2 separate regions of the Homo sapiens genome follow, and region 2 is linked to region 1. The links come from fine-mapping of genetic effects on gene expression. A gene starts in region 1. The other region holds a variant in brackets. All regions are shown on one strand. Distances are from middle to middle.

Region 1 (4,393 bases):
AGGGTGACTTCAGGTCATCTGTGGCTATGCATGGCCAGCCTGCCAAGGGGACTTGACAAGAGGGAAGATCACTGCTTTCCTCTCAGGTCTGATGGAACTAGGGCAGGCCTACTCCTGTCATGTCCGAGCTATGAGACCTTGGGCAAGTACCTCTCCCTTTCTGAGTCTCAGTTTTGTCTCAGTTTTATCTTGGGATACTTATGTTTTTCTGTCTCAGGGCCCCTGTGGAAACTGAGTTGGCACACCACTCTGCTGTGCCAACATAAGCATAGTTAAGGCCAGTAACTCTGGGTGGGGTAAATATTACAATTTAAAGGGGAGGGGTTATAGGGAAGTAGAATATTTTTTTCTTTTTCTTTTTTTTTCGAGACAGGGTCTTGCTGTGTCACCCAGGCCAGAGTGCAGTGGTGCCATCACAGTTCACTGCAGCCTTGACCTCCCGGGCTCAAGCAATCCTCCCACCTCAGCCACTTGAGTAGCTGAGACCTCAGATATGTGCCATCACACCCAGCTGATTTTTTAAAATTAATTTTTTGTAGAGATAGGGTCTCATATGTTGCCCATGCTGGTCTCAAACTACTGGGTTCAAATGATCCTCCTGCCTCAGCCTTCCAAAGTACTGGGATTACAGGCATGAGCCACCATGCCGGGCTGGGAGGCGGAATTTTGTTCAGTCTAAAGATAAGCTTTTTCATAGCTCTGGCTGTAGTGGGAGGGAGCAGAGGAGTGAATGATTGTCAGTTGGGAGGGTGCAGAGTGGGCTCCTGCCCTAGGGTGGAGGTGAGGGTGGCTTAGGTGAGACAACACAGAGGCCCTGTTCAGCCCCACGTCCCCTCCCTGTGCTCCCTCCTCCTCTCTCCTCTCCTGCAGGCGTGGGAGGTATCATCATTCAGCAGATTTCACCAGAGGCAGTGGAGGAGGCAGGTACCTGAGCCAGAATTCAGAATGTCTTATTCTCCACTTGACTCTGCCACTAACTTGTTGTGCAACTTTGGGCCTTTCCCCAGGCCTTCATTTTCTTTTCTTTTCTTTTTCTTTTTTTTTTTTTGAGGCGGAGTCTCGCTATGTTGCCCAGGCTGGAGTGCAGTGGTGCAGCATCATCTCGGCTCACTGCAAGCTCCACCTTCTGAGTTCACGCCATTCTACTGCCTCAGCCTCCCGAGTAGCCGGGACTGCAGGCGCCCACCACCACGCCCGGCTTATTTTTTGTATTTTTAGTAGAGACAGGGTTTCACCACGTTAGCCAAGATGGTCTCGATCTCCTGACCTCGTGATCCACCCGCCTGGGCTTCCCAAAGTGCTGGGATTACAGGCGTGAGCCACTGCGCCCGGCCATTTTCTTAAATATCTAATAAAAAATATATAGCAAATGCAGTTTGTAAACTATGACAATATGACCACGCAAAAGATTATTATCTTCCAAGACTGCTGGTCCAAGGAAAGGTCAGTAATAAAGTGGAAGCATTGTAGCTTATGGAATGACTGGTTAGATTTGGGAGAAGCCTTAGCAATAATCTAGAATCTGCATAGATAATACATCTGAGGATTGGGCTTTGTGGTTTACAAAGCATTTTTTTTCCTCTTTTGATCCCAGCCGCTTGTCTGGACTGATACAAAGCATTTTTATTAGTTTGTCTTATTCAATCCTCACACCACCTCAAATTTACAGAGGATATGGATCTGGTTAACTTGTATGACTATGTAACCTCATGTCAGTCCACAGCACTGCCTGGAGGTGGGTAGAGGTGGTCCTGGGCTGGAATCCCAGCCCCAGTGGGACCTTGAGCAAGTTACTTTAGCTGTCTGCACCTAAATTTCCTCACTGGCAAAACAGGAATACTGGTGGTTCACACCTGCAATTCCAGCACTTTGGGAGGCTGAGGTGGGAGGATTGCTTGAGTCCAGAAGTTCAAAACCAGACTGGGCAACATAGCAAGACCATCTCTACAAAAATTAAATAAATAAAACATTTACAAGGGTTGTGGTGAAGATTAAATGAGATCACTCACGAAAAAGCTCAGCAGACCCTGATGTGCAGTAGGTGCTCAATAAATGTTAGCCAGCAAAAAACAAACAAAAAAAAACTCAGCTAGGAAATTGCAGTACTGGGCTTCTGACTCCAACCTCAGTGTTCCTTGCCCCACATCAAGCTGTTTCACTTCAAATCCTCTCCATTTCACAATGGAGTCACCCCAGGTTGAAGGAGTGAACTGTGCTTTGGAGGGCTGCCCTAAGCAGGCAGCAAAGAGACAGCTTGGTCTCCAGTGACCTGAAAGAATTATTTATTGCCCTGAAGTCCAGTATACCAGTTGCCAAAGGGAAAAGCTTCCTTCCAACTGGCTCAGCAAGCTGACAGAGGAAGAGTCGGGTTCTTGCTGGGGCAGTCATGCAGAGCTGGGATGACAAGTAGAAGGCTGGCAGATCTGTCTCTGGGCAGATGGATCACCTGATACAGATGCTGGGGCCTGAGCCCTGGGATTGGCCCAAAACAGGGCTGTGTTGACCCAACAGCTGGGCATTGGCATCCTGTCAATCTGCCGAGAGCCTAGAAATAGTGCGGGGGCAGTCTGCTGGTCTCATTGTGTCAGAGGAAGCAACCATGCAGGTGCTAACCAAGCGTTACCCCAAGAACTGCCTGCTGACCGTCATGGACCGGTATGCAGCCGAGGTGCACAACATGGAGCAGGTGGTGATGATCCCCAGCCTTCTGCGGGACGTGCAGCTGAGTGGGCCTGGGGGCCAGGCCCAGGCTGAGGCCCCTGATCTCTACACCTACTTCACCATGCTCAAGGCCATCTGTGTGGATGTGGACCATGGGCTGCTGCCGCGGGAGGAGTGGCAGGCCAAGGTGGCAGGCAGCGAAGAGAATGGAACCGCAGAGACAGAGGAAGTCGAGGACGAGAGTGCCTCAGGAGAGCTGGACCTGGAAGCCCAGTTCCACCTGCACTTCTCCAGCCTCCATCACATCCTCATGCACCTCACCGAGAAAGCCCAGGAGGTGACAAGGAAATACCAGGAAATGACGGGACAAGTTTGGTAGACCTTGGACACTAGGGAAGGTAATGGTGGCCATGCTGGTGGGTGTGAGTCTACAAAGGGACATTCCAGGAGAGGAGAGGGGGCAGTGGTGCAACCCACTGGGAGAGGAACAGCCTGACTTTCAGACAGAGCCACTCTTGGGTCAGGGTATTGGGACCACAACCTAGGAGGGCCTAAGACTAGGCCTGTGTTACTATCCTTCTGACCTCAAATTGGCAATTGCAATGAAGTGATATGGAAACAGAGGGAAAAGTGGCCTGTGAGGGCATATCTCATATGCACATATATGTGTTTGTGCATGTGTGCATTTATTAGTATGTGAATGCTTGTAAATGTGTGAATTGAATGAGTGTGTTCTCATCAGTGACTTTGTTAAGAATTTAATTGAAGAGGGGCCAGGCGCGGTGGCTCACACCAAAGCACTTTGGGAGGCCGAGGCGGGCGGATCATGAGGCCAGGAGATTGAGACCATCCTGGCTAACATGGTGAAACCCAATCTCTACTAAAAATACAAAAAATTAGCTGGGCGTGGTGGTGGGTGCCTGTAGTCCCAGCTACTCGGGAGGCTGAGGCAGGAGAATGGCATGAACCTGGGAGGCAGAGGTTGCAGTGAGCTGAGATTGTGCCACTGCACTCCAGCCTAGGTGACAGAGGGAGACTCCATCTCAAAAAAAAAAAAAAAACTTACCTAAGGCATGCACATTGATTTAAGTGAACATTGTGAATTCCATTTGTGTGACAGTGTTTCCCAACATTTTTTCAAGTCACAGAACATGGAAAATTATTATATGGCACATGGGGATACATAGGTGAGGCTGCTTGCAGTACTGCTACAACAGGCTGGGGGTACTCTGACCATCCCAGGTTGGAACCCACCAAACGGGAAGCCGAGGGACCAGTCATGGCACTCTAATCCATTCCAGGCAAACTGGAGTATGCAGACATGCCTGTTGGGAAGCCCTGTTGTATGTACATATGAATATGTGTTCCAGTCTAAGCCTACATGTCTATGCACAGAGGGGCTGGGGTGGTGAGTGTGGATGAGCAGCAAGCTAGACAAGCAGGTGGTGGCAGAGGGTAGGAGGTGGGAAGGGGCCCTAGCATGGTCACCACTAGTTCACTCATGGATAAAGACTAGTATTAATAGAAATTGGACCACAGCACCTGCCAGTTTTGATTCTGTGCCACCTGCCAGCCCTGCTCCCACAAACTGGTCTCATTAGTTGTAAACAACATCCACGTCCATTGCAATCTCAAAACCACCTGATGCAGCTATGTAGGAAAAGATTCTCATCCCCAGTTTACTAGTATGGAAATTGAAGCCAGAGAGGTGAAGTGACTCACCCAAAGTCAC
Region 2 (4,393 bases), 37 kb after region 1:
TGTTCTTAAACTTTGCTTAATTCCCAATTTCAAAATATTTTGAAACAGCATTTCTTTTTTTTTTAAGATGGGGTCTTGCTGTGTCACCCAGGCTGGAGTGCATTGGCAGGATCATGGCTCACTGCAGCCTCAAATGCCTGGGCTCAAGTGATTCTCCCACTTCAGCTTCCTGAGTAGCTGAGATTACAGGCACGGGCCATCACGCCTGGCTAATTTTTATTTTTGTAGAGACAGGTCTCACTATGTTGCCCAGGCTGGTCTTGAACTCCTGGACTCCAGTGATCCTCCTGCCTCGGTGTCCCAAAGCGCTATGAGCCACCACACGCCACCAGCACTTCATTTATTGACTGAAATTTAGGAATTTGTTGTTGAAAACCACCCATATCTCTGTAAAGTTTTAAAACATGATTACAAAGTATAGTGTTTGGAAAAGAATAAAAGAATCTTGGGCTCTAGACAAAAAGTCTAGATTCTAGTCTGTGTTGGCACCAACAAGGTATTCTTCAGAGTCTGGAGCCATTTCCCTCCCGGTAATATAAGACATTGACTTTTTTTTTTTTTTTTTTTTTTTTTTGAGACAGGGTCTTGCTTACTTCCCCAGTCTGGAATACAGTGGTGTGAACACAGCTCACTTAGCCTCGACTTCCAGGATTCAAGTGATCCTCCCACCTCAGTCTCTTGAGTAGCTGGGACTACAGCGCATGTCACCAGGCTTGGCTAATTTTTTGATTTTTTGTAGACAAAGGGTCTCACTATGTTGCCCAGGCTGGTCTTGAACTCCTGGGCTCAAGTGATCTGTCTGCCTCAGGCTCCCAAAGTGCTGGGATTACAAGTGTGGGTCACTGTGCTCAGCTGAACTGCTTTAAGGCTATATTTGGACTTTGAAGTCAAATGAAAATGTATATGAAGCCATGTGAATATATGAAACAGATCAAAGCTATTTACTATGGACAGAGCCCAGGGCCTCTGAGGCAACACTGAAGAACCTCCAGTGCTCTACAGAACATTCTGGAAATCCCTACACTAGATGAGCTCTTCCCGTTCTGACATCACATCACTTTCATAATAACAACCAAAAAAGTAAATTTGGTCAGGTTGAAATCCATCCAAATTCATCTTCTACTTTTTTTTTTTTTTGGCTTGGACAACAGCAAAGACGTGAGGAACTATACTGGTCCTTTGTGTTAATGCTTGTACTAGTAAAATATTTAGGTTTTAATCATGGCTGGTTTGGTGTGCTTCATTCATTCATTCAACTGTGCTAAAAACTGGGGCTATGAAGACAAGTGTGGTCTCAAACTGCTAGTCTCCTGGGGAAAAGAGGTAAACAAGCATAACACAGTATTACAGCAGTTAATGGTATCAGCAGACTCCTGGCACAGTGGGAGCAACTCAATTCTGCAGGAGGAGGGAAGGTAGAGGGATAGGAAAAGATTCACATAAATAGCAATGCTATTGACCGAGCACTTAAAATGCATCAGGCAGTGTTCTTAATCTTTTATGTAATCATTTTAGAGATGAGAACATTCAGATAAAAGATGGTTAAATAACCTGCCTACAGATTTTAAAAAAAATGATGGAGGCAAGATTTACAACCAGGACATACGACTTTAAGGCCCTACTCTTAATCACTACACCATTCTGCCTTTATATTGACAGACATGGTAGCAGTTAAGCTGAATCTTGAAGAGGTTCATATAATCAGATGACAGGGTAGAAGTCAGCAGAGAGGAGAGGAAGCAGCATGAATGAAAGGGAACAGAGGTACAAGACAGCATGGCACACGGGGAGTTTGAAGTTGTTAGGCCAGCTGGAACACAGGGTGGAGGAGAG[T/A]CTGTGGGCAGGAAAACAGGTTAGAGGCGCTACGCTTCCCTCCCCCTTTGGCAAGATCCCCATCTTTGTCTCTGCAATAACAGACCAAAAAGAAGTCTTAGAAAATGGAGTAGACGGAAGAGATGGAATAACTGGATTCCATCTCAGAATGCCATTGACCTTGGAGTCTCTCTGATCTTAGGGGATAATGGGTAAATAAAATGTATGAATTCTGCCTGAGGGCTGAAAAAAAATAGAAATAAAATAAAATGTGTGAAAGTTCCTACTGTTGACTAGATAAACGTTGGCTGAATCTGAATGTGTGGCAGATATTACACAAATTGGGGTCCTGGATAAAAAGCGTATATGAAGTACTCTTAAGGAAGGGAAAGGATAAGAACCAGACTGCAAAAATCACTTCAGTTCCTGCGCATGATGAAAGGTTTAAGTGGCTGCCTTATAAAAACTGCAGTGCTTGCTGTTAGAATAAATGAGCTGCACGAGATATCCTTAAATCAATGTAAAGTAGCTGTGGTTTGTAGTTTCTGCTGCCTGGCCAAACCAGTACCTTAACTACTCCCCTTGGCTTTGTGAGTATTGTCACTGTATAATTTCAAACAAAAAAAATCTCGAACAAGGTGTACAGAATGGGGACAGTACACCATCTGCCTGTGTACACGCCAAGAGGAAAATGTAGGAGCTGGTAACGATCCAGAAGTTTTTTTGTGCATACAAAATAGCATTTCATTTATATTTCCTTAGCACAGGATTCTAATTATGCTTTATATCCTCACAATGGTTAGCATAGGCTACAAATAATTATGCGGTTAATCAGATTCCCTGTTTGGCTTGAGCAAGCACAGCAGTCTGAACGATCTCAGACAATTTTAATAGGGAAAGGTGAGTTTTTTTCAGATGTGTTTCAGTGCTTATGGAGGGCCAGTGGCTTCTCACCATGGTGACAATCCGGTTGCTAGGCTGGGCAAGACCAAGTGTGGAAGAATGGTGCTCTGAACAGTTCTACTGAAACAAATGGCTGATGCCACTGGCAACTTTCTTCAAGTTCTGGTTAATTTCCCATGAAATAATTGCTTGGCACATATCTAAGCAGTTCCTTTATTCATTGTTTCTTTGTCTTGCCAATAGCAGAGTCAATCAATACTGAAACATACAGTTTGAACCAAGCATATGTGATGCCTACTGCACAATACACTGAGGTTAGTAACAAAGGGATGAAGGGGTACTTCACCTTCCAGGAGGTGAAAGGGAATACAAATTCACAGCAGACTTCCAGAGGCCCCAGGCCAAGCAGGTAGAAAGTTTCCATCCAATTAAAAAGAGGTTTTTCTTTTCTGAAGGAAAAAAGAGAGAAAAGTCTGATTTTAGATGAGTCATCCTGGTTTAGCAAACATTTCCTAGCTAAAGCTTCCCCATCTGCACTGTCTTGCTGTCAATTATTATAGCCAAGGCCAGAGTCAAGAGTATATTAAATTTCACATTTAGGGCCAAGTGCAGAGGCTCATGCCTGTAATCCCAGCACTTTGGGAGGCCAAGGCAGGTGGATCACCTGAGGTCAGGAGTTCTAGACTAACCTGGCCAACATGGAGAAACCCCATCTCTACTAAAAATACAAAAATTAGCCGACCAGGGTGGCACAGGCCTGTAATTCCAGCTACTTGGGAGGCTGAGGCAGGAGAACTGCTTTAACTGGGTTGCAGTGAGTCGATATGGCACCACTGCACTCTAGCCTGGGCGACAGAGTGAGACTCTGTCTCAAAAAATAAATAAAAATAAAAAATAAGTTTCACATTTAGAAAAAAATGATAATTATATACGTTATATTATCTCAACAATCTAAATTTACTCCACCATTGACCTATGCTGTTATTTAGCTCAAGCTGCTCAGAGAGAATTAGTTCTGCATTTGAAAGAGGTAAAGGGGTTGGGTGCTGTGACATTGGAATAAGAACATGAGAAACAATATAGAATTGAAGATTTAAAAAAAATTTTCTTTTTGAGATGGAGCGTTGCTCTGTCACCCAGACTGGAGTGCAGTGGTGCAATCTCAGCTTACTGCAACCTCCACCTCCTGGGTTCAAGCGATTCTCTTGCCTCAGCCTCCCAAGTAGCTGGGATTACAGGCGCCTGCCACCATGCCCAGCTAATTTTTGTATTTTCTATAGAGACAAGGTTTCACCAGATTTTTAAAATATTTTTTATTTTGGTAAAATATATATAACATGAAATTTGCTATTTGTTTAACCATTTTTAAGTATACAGTTTGATGGTATTAAGTAGATCAATAATATGCGCCCATCGCCACTATCCACCTTCAAAATATTTTCGTGACCCCAAACAGAAACTCTGGAACCATTAACAATAACTTCCCATCCCCCTGTTCCCTCAACCTCTAATCTACTTTCTGTCTCTATGTTTGTTTATTCTAGAATTTCCTATCAGTGGAACGATATGATATTTGTTCTATTCTCTCGTTTCTTTCACTTAGCATGTTTTCAAGATTCATTCATGTAGCATGTATTGGAACTTCATTCTTTTCTTTGGCTGAATAATCCACTATATG

Alleles and levels. Alleles are on the strand shown, and positions count from the first base shown. SD is a standard deviation of normalised expression in the study named.
For the expression in kidney cortex of the gene that starts at base 2,579 in region 1, T is the low allele of the variant in region 2 and A is the other (large effect, 0.91 SD a copy in GTEx).

The links. PIP is the estimated chance that this variant, and not a neighbour inherited with it, causes the effect. A credible set is the group of variants that fine-mapping cannot tell apart.
Region 2: its variant is the best candidate, but not a certain one, in a credible set for the expression of THRSP in kidney cortex (GTEx, PIP 0.54).

The regions. Positions count from the first base shown.
Region 1 is chr11:78,061,283-78,065,675 of GRCh38, forward strand. It overlaps THRSP (thyroid hormone responsive), which reads left to right and starts at 2,579. Exons shown (of 2, transcript NM_003251.4): 1 at 2,579-3,059. The coding sequence starts at 2,600. The coding sequence ends at 3,040. All of the region lies in intron 1 of NDUFC2-KCTD14 (NDUFC2-KCTD14 readthrough), which reads right to left.
Region 2 is chr11:78,098,032-78,102,424 of GRCh38, forward strand. It overlaps ALG8 (ALG8 alpha-1,3-glucosyltransferase), which reads right to left. Exons shown (of 13, transcript NM_024079.5): 13 at 2,915-3,164. The coding sequence ends at 2,933. Among named protein-coding and RNA genes, the nearest start is that of NDUFC2-KCTD14, 20 kb to the left of the region's middle. The variant T/A (reference allele first, on the strand shown) is at 1,834.